Regions from separate parts of the Homo sapiens genome. Here region 1 is linked to region 2. Evidence: fine-mapped expression QTL. Tissue or cell type: cerebellum. Region 2 holds a variant in brackets; the other region holds the start of a gene. All regions are shown on one strand. Distances are between the middles of the regions.

The links. PIP is the estimated chance that this variant, and not a neighbour inherited with it, causes the effect.
Region 1: it holds the start of PRDM10, and the variant in region 2 is fine-mapped to the expression of PRDM10 in cerebellum (GTEx, PIP above 0.99). The same link has a PIP of 0.9 or more in cerebellar hemisphere.

The regions. Positions count from the first base shown.
Region 1 is chr11:129,997,176-130,007,332 of GRCh38, forward strand. PRDM10 (PR/SET domain 10) reads right to left here and starts at 5,660. Exons shown (of 21, transcript NM_199437.2): 1 at 5,547-5,660. PRDM10-DT (PRDM10 divergent transcript) reads left to right here and starts at 5,449. Exons shown (of 1, transcript NR_024233.1): 1 at 5,449-8,311. RefSeq lists silencers at 4,694-4,873, 4,904-4,953, 4,964-5,283, 5,994-6,383, an enhancer at 5,794-5,883 and a cis regulatory region at 9,716-10,062.
Region 2 is chr11:129,947,461-129,957,617 of GRCh38, forward strand. It overlaps PRDM10 (PR/SET domain 10), which reads right to left. Exons shown (of 21, transcript NM_199437.2): 4 at 8,052-8,111. Among named protein-coding and RNA genes, the nearest start is that of PRDM10-DT, 50 kb to the right of the region's middle. The variant T/C (reference allele first, on the strand shown) is at 3,739.

The sequences.
Region 1 (10,157 bases), 50 kb after region 2:
GTTTAAAAGGACAGTTCTCCCGACTGGGTGCAGTGGCTCACACCTGTAATCCCAGCACTTTGGGAGGCAGAGATGGGTGGATCGCTTGAGCCACAGGAGTTCCAGACCAGCCTGGGCAACGTGGCAAGACTCTGTCTCTACAAAAAATACAAAAATTAGCCAGGCATGGTGGTACACACCTGTACTGCCAGCTACTTGGGAGGCCGAGGTGGGAGGATCACTTGAGCCTGGGAGGTCAAGGCTGCAGTGGGCTATGATGGTGCCCCCGCATTCCTGCGTAGGTGACAGAATGAGGGCCTTTCTCAAAAAACAGAAAAGGAAAAAAAAAAGACAGTTCTTTCACGAGCTGGTCCAAACGGTTCCTTCCACCTTTAGAATCAAAGTATTGTGGTCTTTTTCTAAATCACAGGAGAAAAAAATGTAAGTTCAATGTTCTCAATTTCAGGTTTCTCTTAAACATTTGAAAAATGGTAAATTCTAAAAATCAATGTATTGAATAACAGACCAAGTTTGGGAAAATTTAGCTGATTATGCTTAGCTCAACTTTTTTTAATGGATTATGTGCTTACCAATGTCATTTTATTCTTTTAAGTTCAAATGATCCATTGAATACATTAATTCAGTAACAGTTAACTCAATTATCTGGAAGTGGTTTTGAGATTAAGATATTCTTCAAAATAATAATCATGCTTTTGTGAGAGCTATCATAAGCACTAAAAAAACAGACATCTACATATTAGCAGTATCTTTTCATTCAAATTATAGAAACCAAAAAATATTACATCTTAATGCCACCTGGGAACACCCTACCCCTAGCTGACTAAGGCTGCACTTTTCAAAGAAATATGCAAGCCACATACATAATTTAAAATGTTCTAGTATACATAGTTTAAAAGTAGAAACAGGTGAAATTAATTATAATAGTATATTGCATTTTACCCAGTCTATTCAACATATTGTCATTTCAACATTTAATCAATATTTTATAAATTGAAAGATATTATTTTTTTCTACTAAATCTCAAAATCTGAGTGTATGTATTTCACACTTCACAGCACTGGCCATATTTCAAGTGCTCAAAACCACAGGTGGCTACTAGACAGGACAGCACAGGTCTAAGGGATCTGATTTCTAGAAATCACAGCAGGAAAGAAGCTGTGGAGTACAACTTTACCATCAGTGAAAGTGAAGGACATGGGTTAAAAAAAAAGGGGGGGAGGAGGAGGAGCATTTGACTCCAATATTCTCCTGTTTGCAATAAACGAGAGTTTAACTAAAAAATGAATAGCAAACTACAGCCTATGTTAGCAGACAGTAACCTTTTAGCAATCCATATAAGGTTCTAAACTATTGTGCACTATTGATTTTATAATTGTTTTCACCACATTTTAACTAGTCTTGCTGTAACTATACTTAGGGTTACCCATACCTTCCCTCTTTCCACTCCACTTCCTCACCCGCTCCCCATTCCCTAAACTATTTCAAGTTACAGAAGAAGAATCTACCTTCAGGTGCTTTCTACAACACAAATTTAAAATCTACACAAGGATGGTCAATGGAAAGGCACAGAAAAATTTTGGAAGGTGGACAGAAATGGCCAGAGTGCTCCACACAAGTCTTGAAATGGTGAAATGGTGTAATAACTTTTTTTTTTTTTTTTTTTGGAGACAGGGTCTCACTCTGGTTGCCCAGGCTGGAGTGCAGTGGCGTGATCTCGGCTCACTGCAGCCGCTACTTCCGGGGCTCAGGTGATTCTCCCACCTCATCCTCCTGAGTAGCTGAGACTACAGCTGTGGGCCACCACACCTGGCTAACTTTTTTGTTTTTAGTAGAGGCAGAGTTTTGCTATGTTGGCCAGACTGTTCTCGAACTCCTGGACTCAAGCAATCTGCCTGCCTTGGCCTCCCAGAGTACTGGGATTACAGGTGTGAGCCACCACACCCGGCTGTGTTATAACATTAAGAATAAAAAAGAAAAGAGGCCAGATATTCCTAAGCAGTGATTCAACTAAACCACGTGAACAGTTTAATGCTAGAACAGCGAAGAGATAAGTGTCACCAATGAGGGCCAAAATAAGTCACGAAAAGTTCCCCTCTCACCCTCCTGCCTCTACCTATCCCCCAGGAGAATTTGAGTGGGATCATTCTCCAAAGATTTGGTTGTAGCAAACATTTCTTTTTGGCTCTTTCTAGACACCAGATCGAATTCTCCTTCATTAATCTATTAAAGTACCTATAATAAGTTAAAATGGTAGACAATAAATTCTGCTTGTGAAAAACAAATTGCTGGACTGGGTGTGGCTACACTATCTGGGGTGGGATGTGATGGGAGAAGACTATGTATTTTAGTGGCAATAGGTCAAAGTACATCAGTGTTCAAGTTTAAAACAAACTGAACAACTCAAACACTGCAACAACAGGATGTTTAACAGTTTCTTTTTACCAGATATAATTACGCGGTTACGAGGTGTTTACCAGTGCTTAAAATGAAAAATTGAGGAAACCAAAATTATAGCTCAGTACTTCTCAGCCCTTTGATGAATTATGTTTGTTATCCAGAAGCCTATCCCTATCAATTAGATTACGCTTTTAAAAAGTTACAAGAAATCAAAATATTATAATTCTTTTAGTTCGGCGGACTTCATGATGCCCCCTTCAAATAATGGAAGTAATGAAAGTGCCCAATCATCAGCAAAGTCTTTAGACACCTATTTACGTCTTGTTTTAAAAACTAGATATTAAACCAAGATTATGTCGTTTGTACAAATATTTTATACACACACAAAACCAACTTGAAATACACCAAAGTATCAGCAAAGATTATCTCTGGGTAATTATGGGTTTTGTTTTTTTTCACTCGCTTCTAAATTTTTTTTTTTTTTTTTTGAGACGGAGTTTCGCTCTTGTTGCCCAGGCTGGAGTGCAATGGCCCGATCTCAGCTCACTGTAAACTCTGCCTCCCGGGTTCAAGTGATTCTCCTGCCTCAGCCTCCCGAGTAGTTGGGATTACAGGCGCCTGCCATCATGTCCGTCCAATTTTTGTATTTTTAGTAGAGACAGGCTTTCACCATGTTGGCCAGGCTAGTCTCGAACTCCTGACCTCAGGTGATCTGCCCGCCTCGCCTCCCAAAGTGCTGGGATTACAGGCATGAGCCACAGCGCCCGGCTTAAATTTTATGTTTTCTCCAATGATCACGCATTATTCTTAAAACTAGAAGGAAAAACAAAACAGGCAAGCAGAAACTTAGGTAGTGCCAATCAATTTGGGATTATATTGAGTTGTGCTATCCTTTATACCTCCATAACCTCTAAGTAAAAACCATTCAGAGCCCTTGAAGACAGGAACCTTGCTTTTTCTAAAATATATACTCAATTACATTGACATACAATATATGATTAATATGTGGTGGAGCATGCTACAAAATATTAGAAAAACTAAAAATGAATTCTTTGAAAAAGCAAAACAATTTTGCCTTGCAAAACGAGGAACAGCATAGCAGAGTGGGAGCTTACGGGGTAGAAGGCACAAGACATTTGTCTTGATCCAAAACAAACAAAAATGTAATCCTTTCACTAAACGTCCCTGTTCACTTTAAAATGGTTCATTCTGTGTCAACTTCACCTCAATTTATTGTAAAAGTAAACCTAAAGGCCGAGCGCGGGGGCCCATGCCTGCAATCCCAGCACTTAGGGATGCTGCGGCGGTAGGATTGCTTGAGCTCAGCAGTTCGTAACCATCCTGGGCAAAATGATGAAACCCCGTTTCTACAAAAAGTAGAAAAATTAGCCAGGCGTGGTGGTGCACGCCTGTAGTCCCAGCTACTAGGGAGGCTGAAGCAGGAGGATCCCTTGAGCCCGGGAGGTCGAGTCGGCAGTGAGCCAAGATCGCGCCACTGCACTCTAGCCTGGGCAACCAGAGACCCTGTCTCCTAAATAAACCTAGCAAAGTTCCTTTCTAAATACCCCATATTGAATAAACACTGTTTAAACGCTGCTTTGCCCCCAACCAATCCTAATTTTAAAAAAAAATCTTGTTTTCTCTATTCTAGAACAACAAATAAGTACTGCTCATCAAAGTGGAAGCTATTGTGATGCTGGAATGGTAGGAAGATACAAAAAAAATACAATGTAATAATACACCTTCTTGCCTTACAGCGATGGAGGAGTGATAGAAACAAAGAGAACAGGTCAGAAAAAGAGGCCACAAAACAGTCATGAGTGATTCTGCTGTTTTTAATAAAGGTTAAGTACTGCTAAGTTTAGAGAATTTGGGGTGACGAGACAGGCAAGGTTTCAACAGGCAAAGCAGCAGAATTAGGGCACAGGGCAGAGCTGGGTGGGTCTCATCACACATCTAATCCTCGATGACAGCACAAAGCCACCTCTCCTTGTGCTTAAGTGTACACGCACATTGATTGAAAATGCACTAAAATCCAACTCATCCACCAAGCAAGGCTAAAGGCGCGCACACAAATTCAACAGCGCTGCGTTCGCGTGGCTGGAGGGCAGACGGGGAATATTCCATTTTACTTAGTAGAGTATCAACACCTAGCTGCAGGGTTAAACCTGCTTAACAAAAGCTGGCGAGGGGCTGGAGAGGTGCACACCATCAGCCCTCTCCCGAGCGCCGACCGGCCTCGCCCTGCCTCTGCGCTGCACCCTGGGTGCAGGCGGACTGGGGCAGGGCCGCGACCCCGGCCTCGGCCTCCGCCTCCGCCCGGCCAGCCCCGACGCGGTGCCACGGGACAGACCCGCAGGGGCCACCCCACACCCCTGCGGGCCGGCCCCCCGCCCCGGTCCCGGACGCTAGCTTGGGAAGGCAGGCCGGGGGCCCAGCCATCGATGGCAAGTGGGCGGCGCGGCCTCCGCAGACAAAGCTGGGCGCCCCATCGAACAGGACCCTCCGCCCCACGCGCCCGCAACCGGCCAGCCCCGGAGCCCTGCCCGCACTGCCACCCCCAGCCCGGCGCCCGGCCCCCAGCCCCCGGTGCTCGGCTCCCGGCCGGCGGAGACCTGCCCGCCGCGCCCGGAGCGCCCGCGCAACCGCCGCCGCCGGAGCGCGCAGGCCGCCCAACCGCCGTCCCGGCCCAACCAACGCGGGCAGGGGAGGAGAGGTGCGCGCGGCCGGCGGAGCGTGCGAGCCACTCGGGGGTCGCAGGGGGAGGCTGCGCGCGGCGAAGGCAGGGGCGACGAGACGCCGAGGCCGGCGCTGAACGCGGCGCCAGGAGGGCCTGCTGGAGGGGGCCTTGCCCTCTTCCCCTTGGAAGGTGCAGATGGTTTGACCCCCCACCCCGAGTGAGGTGCCTCGTCCCAGCCCCGGCTGGACTGTACCATCGGGCGGTGCCGCCGGGATTTCTCCCCCCCACCACCACCATCAATTCCCCCCCCACCCGGGTCCGCGGTCGGTTGGCCCCGGCCGGGCTCTGAGACGCGGAAAGAGCTGGGCGCCATTTTGGGTGGGACTAAGCAAAGACGAAACACCCTCCCAGTCTATGGGGTAGTCTGGACCCTGGCTTATCTGGTTCCCTTAATCCTTTAGGTACTTACACGACGTTGGGTGAGGGGAGCTGGAAGATCAGCGGGTCCCCGATCCTCTCTCCCTAGGGGTGATAGAAATCAACCCCCCCCGCCACCTCCAGGTGGTTCTTCCCGCCGCAGAGTGGGAGCAGCATAAAAGGCGGGGTCTTATTAGCATAATCTGCCTGGCAACCTGATCTCGACGTTATATGATTGGTTAAACTCTGTAAGCCCCATGCCGTGCCTAGAGACGAGAAACGCTGGGGCGAACTGACAGGCCCAGATTTAGGAGTCATGACGAAGATCCTGAGACGCTTATTCAGTCTGCAGAGAAGCCAAAAGGAGATTCACATAATGGCCCAATGACTGAAGGCCTCTTTATTTCGTGCTCTGCTGTTCGTGTAAAACCCAATCGCAGAGCGGGTCTCAGGCGGCGCTCGCCTGCGTTTCTACTCTCAGCCAATCAGAAAACCCGACTCTTCGCATTGGGGTCAAGCCCCCGCTGCGGCCCGCGTGCTAACGGGGAGGAAGCTTCCAGCTGTGCCTGGGTGTCTCGGGCGCCGAGGGCAGCCTGCGCCCGTGCTAAGCCCGCCTCCCGCGCGCCCGAGGGCCCGGTGTCCCGGAAGACGCGCGGGGGTGAGGCGGCCCTCGCGTCCGCCCGCCCCGCCACAGATTGCCTCCGAAGTGGCCTGGCCGTGGAGCGCCGGCGAAAACCGAACTCCCGCCCGGCTCCCGGAGTCGGGAGCCTGCCGGGGTCTCGCCCTCAGGACCCCCAGGGAGCGGCCGGGCGCCGCCTATCACCCTGACCCACCGCACCTTGAGAGCGCTTTCACTGCGCCTCTTTTTTCTCCTCTACCAATCTGGAAAGGAAGTGAGTGTCATTTCAGACATTGAGAAACATTATTCAACACTGGTTACCCAGTGACTCAGCTCACTCCTTAACCGCAGGCTTCCACATCCTGCTGTCCCTTAAAATTGCCTTCACAAAGGGCAGCCAAGAGCCCAGCTTTGGAGAGATACCCAGCTCCAACTACCCACTGGCAGGCAATACGCAGGGCAGCTAGATGGCAGAGAGACCTTGGACCTTCGGACCTTCGGGGAGCGGTTTTCCCTTCGGTGATATCTACCTTGCTATGTTCGTGATATCTACCTTGCTACGTTATTTTGAAGATTAAGTGAGCTCTTACTTTACCGAGTAAAGTGCTTTGCTTAGCACACTGTCTGGAACTTAAATGAGAAGTACTGACAATATAACTTACAAAAATCCTAAACTATTGCCTGAGAAAAAGAGGGAGACAGGACAGCTAAGCAAAAGACGAGAATAGAAAACACCCACAGCGTGAAAAACTGTAAAATTAACTCAATAGTATTCTCTTTACTGTTTTTTGTTTTGTTTTGTTGTTTTGTTTTTTGATACGGAGTCTCGCTCTGTTGCCCAGGCTGGAGTGCAGTGGTGAGATCTGGGCTCATTGCAACCTCTGCCTCCCGGGTTCAAGCGATTCTCCTGCCTCAGCCTCTCTAGTAGCTGAGATTACAGGCATGCACCACCACGCCCGGCTAATTTTTGTATTTTCAGTAGAGATGGGGTTTCCCCATGTTGGCCAGGCTGGTCTCAAACTCTAACGTCAAGTGATTCTCCCGCCTTGGCCTTCCAAATTGCTGGGATTACAGATGTGAGCCACTGCGTCTAGTCTACCATTTTGTTTCTTTAAATAGCTGGAAACAACGTGGAAAGAAAAGAGAGCTTTTTTTTTTTTTTAAACTTCGTGACAGGGTGCGGTGGCTCACGCCTGTAATCCCAGAATTTTGGGAGGCCGAGGCGGGTGGATCGCTTGAGCACAGGCGTTCGAGACCAGCCTGGGCAACATAGTGAGACTCTGTACAAAAAACAAAAAGATTAGCCAGGCATGGCAGTACACATCTGTGGTTCCAGTTACCGGCAGGCTGTGCAGGAGGGTTACTTGAGCCCAGGAAGTCAAGGCTGCAGTGAGCTGTGATCGTGCCACTGCACTACAACCTGGGTGATAGAGCAAGTCTCTGTCTTTAAAAAAACAAAACAACAACAAGAAGAAACTTCAGACAGTTAACTGCTTTGTAAACAACTTCACATCTAGGCCGTGTCTTGTTCTTCCTTAAACCACTGTACAGGTGGCACTGGACTTAGATGAGGCCGACCTTAACATAGCTAGTGAGAGACACTAGTAGCCCTACTCTGGCAACACAGACATGGAAATCAGTTGCCTAAGGAAAGATCATATTGGCTAAGAGAGTCCCTTGAATGCTCCCTTTTAGTGTTACGAGTAGATGAACAATGCCGCAGGTTGGACAGGTCCTTCTGTGTCCTTGCAAAAGCTGCCACTCCACATACCCCTGGCCTCAGTAAGAACGGCTCACTTTTAGATTTAACATCATTACATCCTTGCTGATGAACTGAGATGGTCCCAACTGAGGTCCACTGACCAGAAACAACACCACAGAACCCAAAAGAGAACGCACCATGGGGAATGGGGCTATTCAAACTGAAGAGCCTGAGTTACTCTCATGGCTTTAGAGAAATGTTCTAAAACTTCTAAGTACATAAATATGTGCAGGGAGATTCCTCCCCACAGAGTTTTTATTCAGAGGGTCTGGAGTGAACCTCAGGAATTTGCTTTTTATGTGGATTTTTAAATGATTTTTAAAGTTTACACTGTAAAATTCACTCACTGGGGTATACAAGAAGTATTTATTGAATATGTACTGTGTGCCATTCATTTTTCTAAACAATAAAGATAGAATAGGGAACAACAGCAACCAAAAAAGGCCCTGCTGTCATGCAGCTTTATTCTAGTGTAGGTAACAAGAAGAAAAGAAATAACTCCAGGTCATGATAAGTGCTACAAAGTAAACCAGGAAAATGCAAAGGCAGAGAACGCTGGCAGTTTAAATAGGGTGCCAAAGAAGTTTTCTCTAAGATACTAACATTTGAGCTGAGCCTTGAGTTATGGGGGAAAAAAAAAAGCCAGCCATGTTAAGATCTTGGAGAACATTCCAATCTAAGAGAATGGCAAAAGTAAAGACCATGAGGTGAACAACAAAAAAATTAGTATGGCGTGCACATATTCATTCTTCTATTGAATAGATATTCATTGAATGCTTCCCAAATGCCAGGCACTGTCTTAGATGCTCTGTGATTCGTCAATTAACACTATAGACAAAAGGAAAAACAACACAAAAATCCATGCCTTGACTGAGCTTTCAGTCTAACACACTTGAGAAACAGTAAGAAGGCCAGAATTATTGGAACACAGGACAGAGTGATACAAGAAAGAGTGTAGTGATACAAGGATACAGTGATACAAGAAAACTTGGGGAAATAGGTCTGGGACAGACCACATAAGGCTTTGAAGGCTATGGTATTGGAATTATTATAGAAAGTGCAACTTAATAGGAGCATTGACTAAGTGTGGTAATTAAAAAAAAAGAAAGAAAAAAGTGCAACTTAAACTAGTTGGAGGTTTTAAGTAAGGTAGTAACACAGTTTTGTCTTTCAAAATAACTGGCTGCTCTAGGGTGCTTATTTTGTTTGGGGAGAGGGCAAGAGACAAGGAGTCTGTGCCAATATGCTCTGAATAAGAAACGATGGCCCATCTTGACTGAAATAGAAGTAGCTTAAATGGGGAGAAGTGTATGGACACCAGATATATTTTGGAGGTGAAGCCACAGAACTTGCAAATGAATAAGTTATGGAACAGAGTGTAAGTTGCTCCTGGTGACAAGGGAGTGATCGAGAATGACTTCTAAGGTTGAAAACTGAGTGGCCAATGAATGTTGATGCCTTAACTGAGATTAGGAACACTGGGAGATAAATGGTTAGAAAATCAAGAGTTGTATTGTAGCCATGTTGAATTGGAAATATCTTTTGGAAAATCCAACTAGACACCCCACGTAGGCAGCTGGAATCCAAAAGAGAGATCAGGGCTGGAAATACAATTATAGGAATACAGTTCATCAGATTATACATTATATCTAAATACATAGAATTAGGTGTGGTCATCTAATTAGGATTAGATGAGAGAGAGTGTGTATATAGAGAAGACAAGTGTATCCAGGACTGAGCTCATGGGAGCTGCTGAATTTAGAGGTGGATGATAGGAAGGCAGCCATCCAAAAGGCTGAGAAGGAAATAACACAGGAGGAGAACCTGGAGAGGATGGTGTCTGAGAAGCCAAGGGAAGACAGTGTTTCAAGAAGGATGTAGTGGCCAGCTGCAGCAAATATTGCTAAAAGCTGATGATAATGACAGTTAACCTGTGGATCTGGAAAGACAGAGGTGGAAATTGCTGGTAACTTTGACAATAGTAGCTTCAAGGGAGAGCTAGGAAGTTTACTGGGAGTCACCTGAAGAAAGCATAGGAGGTGAAGAGTCACATCTGTTGCCAACATATGGCAGATAAGATAGGCCAACGAAAACAACTAATGTGCTGCAGTGAGCTATGATCACACCACTGCACTGAAGCCCAGATGACAAAGCGAGACCCCGTCTCAAAAAGAAAAAAAAAAGTATGTCATGAAAAGCAAAGAAAGCCTGAAAAACTGTTCCAGATTAAAGGAGAATAAAAAGACAGAACTAGGCCAGGCATGGTGGCTCATGCCTGTAAT
Region 2 (10,157 bases):
TGGCTGAAATCTAGTCTTCCTACCAACTCCTTCCAGGCCCTGGAAAAATGACTTCCATCTACCGGCTGTGAGGAAGAGCTGGCTTCATTTTTGATCTGACTGCTCACAGCCTTTAAGCCTCTGCCCTCCCTCTGCCCCTTCTGTCCCACACCTGGGAGGGCTGCTAAGAAGGCTCAGGTGCTCCCTCCTTTGGCAGCAGTGGGAGAGTCAACACTGGCAAGGCCCTGACCACCTGCGTCCTGACCCCACCCCTAAAACTTAATAAAACCTGGTCTCTTCCTGGCTCATTCAGCCGTTTCACACTGCTTGAGAGGCCTGCCCTGTCTCCCAAGACTTCAAATAGGTAAGCAACAGACCGTTTCGATGTGTGCACATGTGAGGTATCATCAGTTTCCACATCTGAACTAAACCTGGGGTGGGGGTCCCTCTTGCCTTTCCAGAGTAGCCATACCACACTGGAGGGGGTAAATGAGTTGACCTATCCTCAACCACTTGTCTTTTAAAACTAAACACGTCGTGCAACACATGGTTAACAAAGTTCCATAGCTCACAGCTCTCCTTTTAAACAGCTCAGGCAGGCTGAGGTTTTTAAGTAAGAATGAAAGAGATGAGGTGCCTGTTTGTTTCATCATGCTGAAGTCAGTCTCCTGCAAATAAGACACAGTTTGGGTCATGTATTAGGTTAATGCTATCTTATCAAATATCCTGGCAGAAAATAAAAATGGTACCTTAAAAAGTTCTCCTGCCTCCAATCTAAGTGTTATGGGATTATACACTGGCCTAGAATCCCTTTATGCAATCTTGCTCCTCCTGCCCAATTAGCACAAGGTCATACTCAAGCCATGTCCTATTCAATAAATAAAGCAAGTTTTTAAAAATGCCACTCCCTTTATCTTCTCATATGTTGTTTTCCTCACCTAAAATACTCTTTCCTCAGCCACCTTCTAAATCCTACCACATTCCAGTTTCCCAGTGAACCGCCTTTGATGCCTCCAGCCCTCCCTGAGTCTCCTCTGCTCTGAACTCCTGCAGCCCTTGGAGCCATAGAATCCCACTCCACAACAGCACTCAGCATCTGCTTCCACATTTCATGACCTCACCAGGCAGCCTGAATCATTCTGAAATAGTTCTATGACAATTTCTGTGGAGCCCAGATCTTCCACGCTTTGGTTAGGGCCCAGGACTTTCCTCTGGAGGTAGCTAGAATAAGTGTAACCCTTCCGCCACAAGAATCAAATATCTGAAGGCCAAAAAACCCTAATTCATTCAGTCATTTCTCACATGACCAAACTCCCAGCTCCCTAATCATCTTGTTGTCTTCATTTATTTCGCAGTGGATTCCATATTTTTATTAATACAACATCAGGGTGCATTAGTGTTTACGTTGGCCACGTTGCTCTACTGCAGACCCATCCTGAACTTGCAGATAACTAAAATATCTAAGTCCTCTTTTCCCCTCATAGAGTGCTATTAAACCATTTTTCCCCTCATCAGGACTTCAAGAGCTGATTTTTACTTAAATGGGGGATTTTGCATTTATCTCCAGTAAATTTCATTTCACTGCTTTTATCTGTTCTTCCCATCTGCCAAGATCTTTAGACTTCAGATCCAGACATCTCACACATTAACTATCCCCACAGCTTTGCATCCATTGCCAAACACCATCTATTTTGGTGATGAGTATGCGTTTTCACATGAGTCCATCTTGCCTCTCCAACTGCACCTCAGGGAAATAGACTATGGGCTTTGGAGTCAGGCATTTAGAGTAAAATCCTTGCCCCACCCCTTAGCAAGTTACTACACTTCTCTGAACCTCAGTTTCTTTGTCTGTAAAATGGACACAGTAATACATGCCTCAGGTTGTTGTATTAAGTGAAACAATATGTATATAAGGCCAGTAGCAGAGTGTATAGCATTTAGTAACTGCTTAGTATTAATCATTATTATCCTAAGTTCTTTAAGGACCATGATGATATCATATACTTCCTCCTCAAATTTAAAAGATCGCTGAGCATAAAGTAGGTGTTCAATGAAGATTAATTTGTTGAAATATATTTGGCCTTTTGGGAAATAACACCAATCCCTTCAGGCATCTAGAGGAAGTCTTTGCAGTACTCACAGAAACATCCTTTTTCTGCTGTGCATCTTAATCGAAGAACTTATCAAACTCTAAAAAGAGGCTGGGTGTGGCTGGGCATGGTGGCTCATGCCTGTAATCCCAGCACTTTGGGAGGCCAAGGTGCGCAGATCACCTGAGGTCAGGAGTTTGAGACCAGCCTGGCCAACATGGTGAAACCCTGTCTCTACTAAAAATACAAAAAAAAGTAGCTGGGCATGGTAGCGGGTGCCTGTAATCCCAGCTACTCGGGAGCCTGAGGCAGAAGAATCACTTGAACCCAGGAGGCGGAGGTTGCAGTGAGCTGAGATCACGCCATTGCACTCCAGCCTGGGTGACAAGAGCGAAACTCCACCCCCCCACCCCCCAAAAAAAGAGGCCAGGCGTGATGGCTCATGCCTGTAATCCCAGCACTCTCCGAGGTTGAGGCAGGAGGATTGCTTGAGCCCAGGATTTCGAGACCAGCCTGAGCAACATGGTGAAACCCTGTCTCTACAAAAAATACAAAATTTAGCTGGGCAGTGGTGGCACGTGCCTGTGGTCCCAGCTACTCAGGAGACTGACATGGGAGAATCATTTGAGCCCAGGAGGTTGAGGCTGCAGTGAGCTGTGATGGTGTCACTCCAGCCTGGGTGACACAGCAAGGCCCTGTCTCAAATAATAATAAAAAAAGAACTCTAAAGAAACGGTACTGAGTGTGTTTATTGAGGGCCTGACCTGCAACGGCTGTGTAAGAGCGTTACCCAACATTTGAAACACTCTGTCTCCAGAAAGCAGATCAAACCGGTTATCTCAAACTGCATCCGCACACTTAACACATGCTCATTTGACTTTTGCCTGACATTCCACTTCTGCAATTCAGGGTCTTTTAGAAAGTTTTACGGGGGAAGCCAAATTCTGGAAGACGCTTCTGCCTCAGCTTCAATAAAAACAGCATAAAATGCCCTGTGAGGGTGAGGACTCCACAGGGAACTTCTAGCAGTGCAGCTGCTGTGGCCACCTCCCCCTCAACCTCCTCACCAGAACCTGCAAGGAAGTGACTGTATTCCTGCTCCCCATCTCAGAGCACAGCTTACAATACTGCCCCTTGTCCTAAGCGCTTAAGCATTATGCCAGGGTTAGTGATAAATGTTATCACATACTGAACAAACCAAAGCATATGTACACCTCTACTCCTCATAAACTCGCTCTGCAGAGCCAACCTGAAAGAATGAATTCAGCAATTCAGTTATTCTAGTAAAACCGCGATGTATTTTTTTCCCAACAGATGCTGTCAGAAAGACACCGGTTTGGCAACGTGACTGGCTTCTTGCCACTGCTGAGAAAGCTGACATCAAGATAAAACCGGCCTTCACTTCCCCATGCTGGACCTCTTTCCTAACAGACTGTGGCAAAAGGAAATGCTTAAACACTCCAGCAGCATCTTTAGAGGCTGGCTCTAAAAGCGGAGTTTGGATATTTACCAGAAACATGCAAACTGCTGTGGAAAAGGAACGGAAAGAGCTGCTGACCATCATTTCTAGATAAGAACTGTACACTTCTAGACAACACAAACCTTAACACACAACAGGCATGCATTACAAATTTAATGAACCACAAATTCAAATTCAGCTGGTGTTTAC[T/C]GAGTGCTAGGCAGGTATTTGAATCCCTCTGAGGCCAGGTGATGTTACAACGCTCCTAAGTGGCAGAGATGAAGTCTAAATTCTGACTCTGCACTGCCTTTTCCACTACATCACGATGGCCCTATGGAATTCAGTCTATTCAAGGAGGGCAGCAGAAGCGGTAAACGTCACCCACGCTTTGAATACCTGGGCAACAAGGTAACCAACCACACATGTCCCTGAGGTCATAGCCAGGCGGTAGGTTGGCAAGCAGTGTCTGTCTGTTTCACTTAGAGGAAAGGAGTCTGAAGCAAAACCATTTTAATCCTGTGCATTTTGTCATGTACAATAAAATACAGTAAAAGCAAAAAGAATCTATAAACTTACGGTATACTTTCTCCTTCCCACTTAATACCACTCTCTGTAATTATTTCTGAAAGGACATAATGCATTTCAGGATACAATTTATCTGAGAAGTGAAACATGAAACGACCACGCTGGACAGCAGCACACACAACAGAATGCTTCTTGATTCCTACTGAGACCAATTATCAGGGCAGCATATTTTCCTCTCAGTGTGTGGGGAGTCACACATGTTCATTTTCAAAAACAAAGAGGAGACTATGCCTGGAGACCACTGATGCCTTTCTTAAGGACGGGGGAATGCATACATGAAAAAGGATTCAAGCACATTCTGCCCCCACTAAAAACAACTGAAAATATAATGGGAACCTTTTGGCTAAGAAAAAAACAAAAACCAAAAAAAAAAACCATCCTCTGTGTTCAACCCTCAATCTAACTTTCTATCCAGAATTTATCCAGGTCACCAGATAAACTGACAACCACTGAGGTGTTATAACCAGAAATAAAAACTGTGCTGGTGGAAAGGAAACTACAATGAAGAAAGATGCTAAGCCAATAGTTACACTGTCTTGTAATGTCAGGGTTTGTGGAGCTGAGTACAACTTTCCTTTTGAGCAAAACATGAAACAAGCAGATTGTTTCTGGAGATTGGAAAAGATGAAGGGCCCTTTGAAGTGCAAATGGCAACGAAGCCTTTAATTAAAACTATCCCTTAATATTAAAACAACAAAAATTTGCCTATCGGATTGGCAAAATTTGAAAAGAATGCAAATACTCAGTGTGGCAAGAGTGTGTGGAAATGGGGCACCCTTGTATACTATACTGTTGGTGGGAATACAAATATTTTCAGTGTCTGAAAAGCAATTTAGAAAATCAATTATCAAAATAATTTCACACAAATATCAAATAGAATAGTATTTTATTATACATGAGGTTTATTCCTCATGTATCCATAACTCAGCTCAACAATTATCAATTCATGGCCAATCAACATCTTTTCTTTTAAGAGACAAAATGTCTGTCTGGAGTGCAGAGTGGCTTAATCAGCTCATGGCAGCCTCAACCTCCCAGGCTCAAGTGATCTTCCCACCTCAGCCTCCCGAGTAGCTGAGATTACAGACACGTGCCACCATGCCTGGCTAATTTTTTTAGTTTTTGTACATACAGGGGTCTTCACTATGTTGCCTAGGCTGGTCTTTAACTCCTGGGCTCAAGTGGTCCTCCTGTCTCGGGGATCCCAAAGTGCTGGGATTATAGATGTGATTCGCCGTGCCTGGCCAATTCATGGCCAATCTTATTTCAACTAATCTCCTACCTACTTCCTCCCTCATTGGGAGAAGCAAAACCAAGACATTATACATTTTCATCTGTAAATAGTTGAGTACAATGAAATGACTTTTAGATTGCATATCTTATACCTAAAATATTAAAATTAGTCTTTTTTTTTTTTGAGACAGAGTCTCACTCTTATCGCCCAAGCTGGAGTGCAATGGCACGATCTCAGCTCACTGCAACCTCCGCCTCCCAGGTTCAAGCGATTCTCCTGCCTCAGCCTCCTGAGTACTCAGCTAGGATTACAGGTGCCCACCACCATGCCCAACTAATTTTTGTATTTTTAGTTGAGATGGAGTTTCACTATGTTGGCCAGGCTGGTATCAAACTCCTGATCTCAGGTGATCCGCCCACCTTGGCTTCCCAAAGTGCTGGGATAACAGGCATGATCCACTGCACCCAGCCGTCATTTCTGTGTGTTTTGTGTTTTGTTTTGTTTTTACACGGAGTCTTGCTGTGTTGCCAGGCTGGAGTGCAGTGGTGTGATCTCGGCTCACTGCAACCTCCAACTCCCTGGTTCAAGCGATTCTCCTGCCTCAGCCTCCCGAGTAGCTGGGATTACAGGCATGCGCCACCACGCCCAGCTAATTTTTGTATTTTTAGTAGAGACAGGGTTTCACCATGTTGGCCAGGCTGGTCTCGAACTCCTGGCCTCAAGTGATCTGCCTGCCTCAGCCTCCCAAAGTGTTGGGATTACAGGTGCCTGGCCAGAAAACATGTTTTTTAAGAGAAAACATATTATAAGTCCATATTCATATTCCAATTCAAATTTAGAATTCTGGGTTTTTATTTCATTGGTTTGGTTTTTATATTTGTATGTTTTTCCACTTTTACAAAAAATTTGGTTCTTAACTTAAAATACAAATATCTTCTGTCTCTACCATTTGTCTTTGGGGTATTTATCCTAAGGAAATAATCTGATATGATGTCCATGACAGCATTCTTTATAGTAGCAAAAAAAAAAAAAAAAAAAGGAAATAATCTACATGTAAAATAATAAATGAAGTATATAATAGTATATCCTAATATATAAAAATATATATATTATATATATATAATCCATTGCTTGCTTGATGGAATCAATAAGTATTTACAGAAATGAGGTTGGTTTGGGTCAAGAATATACCTAAGTATTATAAAAAATTATTAAAATAAATAACAATTCTCATTTAAGTTCAAAGACCCCATTACATTGCCGTTCACTGCCAGTCATGAATGAATTTAACCCCAACTTATACAAAAAAGGCTCCTAACAAACTTCTCTATATTTCAGATGATATGAATATAACTAGGGTTCATTTTCTAAATTTTAAAATAGAAGCATACAAATCTTCTACCAAGAAATAAAAAAGCAGAAAGTGCTTCTTCTTTTAAATTTTAATTTAATTTATTTATTTTTTTTTTTTTTGAGATGGAGTCTTGCTCTATCACCCAGGCTGGAGTGCAGTGGCACAATCTTGGCTCACTGCAACCTCCACCTCCCAGGTTGAAGTGATTCTTGTGCCTCAGGCTCCCAAGTAACTGGGATTACAGGCACCCGCCACCATGCCTGGCTAAGTTTTTTGTATTTTTAGTAGAGACAGGGTTTCACCATGTTGGCCAGGCTGGTCTCGAACTCCTGACCTCAATTGATCCGCCCACCTCAGCCTCTGAAAGTGCTGGGATTACACGTGTGAGCCATCATGCCTGGCCAGAAAGTGCTTCTTAATGAGAATAATTTAATTATTAATCAGTCATGGCACTCAGTAATATAGACAAATTACAGTCACACTACCTGACATGAAAGTAAACCTATTTGGTTTTTGTTTATTTATTTTTGAGACAGGGCCTTACTCTGCCACCCAGGCTGGAGTGCAGTAGTGCAATCAAAGCTCACTGCAGCCTTGAACATCTGAGTTTAAGGGATCCTCCCACCTTAGCCTCCCAAGTAGCTGGAACCACAGGTGTGCACCACCACACCTGGCTAATTTTTAAATTTTTTGCAGAGATGGGGTCTCACTATATTGCCCAGTCTGGTCTCAAACGATTCTCCCACCTCAGCCTCCCAAAGTGCTGGGATTATAGGCATGAGCCTCTGTGCCCAGCTGCTTCCACACCTTCTTTATCACTTTCACATTCTTGCAGGAAATAAGGAGGAAGTCATCAAAGCCAAGTAGGATATATCAGAAATGAAGGTAATGGGAAAGAAATGTTTTAAAAGAAAACCAAGAAGAACTCAAATTTTTAGAAGCTGGCATGAGGAAAATTGGAACCAAATTTATATGTAATTTAAGCAAGAATTTTTTTTCAGTATTTAAAAATAGAGCAAGTACAAAAGCTATATCAATTTCCAAAAAAAGAGACACTTTTAAACCTCATGATTATTCTTTGGTACTTGAACAAATACCCTGTTTATATGCTTATTTTAAAAAATTTCTCTGACAAATCACTTTCTATTATCAGATTATTCCAGTATATACTTATTGAAATATGTTAATATTATGTTGCATTTTGCTTTGTTTTCATTAAAGGAGCTGGAGAACATTCTTAGTACATGAGAAACAAACATCCAGAGATGGTGCAGTGCAAAGGGATGGGGCATTCCAGGCGCAGTGGCATTCACAGTGTTATCCCCAAACAAGAAAAAGGCAGTTCGTTACCTGCTGAGCTGTAGCATCCTGTTGGACATAAGCTACCTGGCCGGGGTCTGTAAACAGAGTCTAAACAAACAAACGAACAAAAAATTATCAGTAGCTCTTTGGATAGCCTGCCTACACAGAAAAATTATCCTACTGCTAAGCACCAATTTTTAGAAAAGTTAACTCCCATTTTAGCCAGTAATAAGCTTTCATTAATACAGAAAATAAAGATAGTAATCTTAAATTTAGCTAAAGCTTTTCATTCACATGGCTCCAAAGAGATTGTATAAGCTAACCATCCCAATGGCTAACATACTTCGCAATTTTACTCGTAAGCAAAGCCTTTCTTGGGACTGAATGTCACAGTTAATTAAAAAGGCATCTCATGAAAACACAAGAGACATGACATGAACAAGGGTTCACAGGTTCACACATAACACTGCTCACGGGAGTAGACTTGTGATGAAATGAAAATGGATGGAGATAGACAGGCATCTAGAAGAGGATTACATACCCAAGGATTACAGCTATTTCAAATGTAAGTGCATGTTTATTATCAGAAGAGAAGTAGAAGGAAAATAAATTGAACTTAATGTTCCATGAGTTCTTTTCTACATAGTCAGTAAAGTCATAATTAAAAAAAAAAATTAATCATCATAAACTAAGTTGGCTCATGATGCAGCAAAGCTAACTAGAGAAAATTCTTCGAAACTACTGTAGCCAGGGCACCACAGTTAATATCTCTAATCCAGAAAAATGTCAAAATGTCCTTTCTTCTAAAGTTTTTAAAAATCTGGCTGGGCGCGGTGACTCACGCCTGTAATCCCAGCACTTTGGGAGGCCAAGGCAGGCGGATCACCTGAGGTCAGGAGATCGAGACCTGGCCAACATGGCAAAACACCATCTCTACTAAAAATACGAAAATTAGCTTGTTGTGGTGGTGGGTGCCTGTAATCCCAGTTGCTTGGGAGGCTGAGACAGGAGAATCACTTGAACCCGGGAGGTAGAGGTTGCAGTGAGCTGAGATTGTGCCACTGCATTCCAGCCTAGGAGACAGAGCAAGACTCTGTCTCAAAAAAAATAAAAAATAAGTAAACAAAATAAAAATTATCCAAATTCAGACATTTAGTAACATTGTAATAAACTGAAAGTTGGTCACAGGACATTCTTATATAAACTAATCTTATTTTAATATAGGCAGGGGTATTCCAAAAGTACCACTAAGTCTTCAGTGATTTCATACTTATGTAGATTTGAAAGGCACTAATTAGGCGGGCCTCATTTCTATTTGGGAGTGATCTGAGCCTCTTTATTGAATATCAAATGAGGGCAAATTTTTCTTACCAAGATGCTACTATAAAAGTATGGAATTTAGATGTTAAAGATATACATTTCAAAGTACTTTATACATTGTAAAGTGCTAACAATGTAAATTAACATTTATATGTTGGGGGATATTGGTGTCACTCATTTGGAAGCTATACTGCAAGTCACTGGCAAAAAATAAAATAAAAGCAGCTATAATTGTACGCCTTTTGGCAGTAAACATCTTTGCTTCTAGTACAGCCTTGCAAATCAGTAAGTTATTAAGAAGTGGTAGCTAATAAGCTTAGCAGGACCCTTTCTTACATATTTAGCTGAAATAATCTGTATGTTTTCACAGAGCCATTTTTGGCCTGGTTCTTGATACTTAGGAATAATAAATTCATAACCTAGTCAACTGTAGAGAAGAGCTATATACGAACCCATGCTCTAACTCCTTATTGCATTTAGCGTCAAGAAATAAATCACATCTTCCTCTGCCAAGTTGGTTACAAGCTCCTTGAGAGCACAGATCTTTTTTTTTGAGACAGAGTTTTGCTCTGTCACCCAGGCTGGAGTGCAGTGGCGCGATCTCGGCTCACTGCAACCTCCGCCTCCCAGGTTCAAGCAATTCTCTGCCTCAGCCTCCCACGTAGCTGGGATTACAGGTGCCCACCACCACGCCCAGCTACTTTTTTGTATTTTTAGTAGAGACAGGGTTTCACCCTCTTGGCCAGGCTGGTCTTGAACTCCTGACCTCATGATCCACCTGCCTCGGCCTCCCAAAGTGCTGGGATTACAGGCATGAGCCACCGCGCCTGGCTG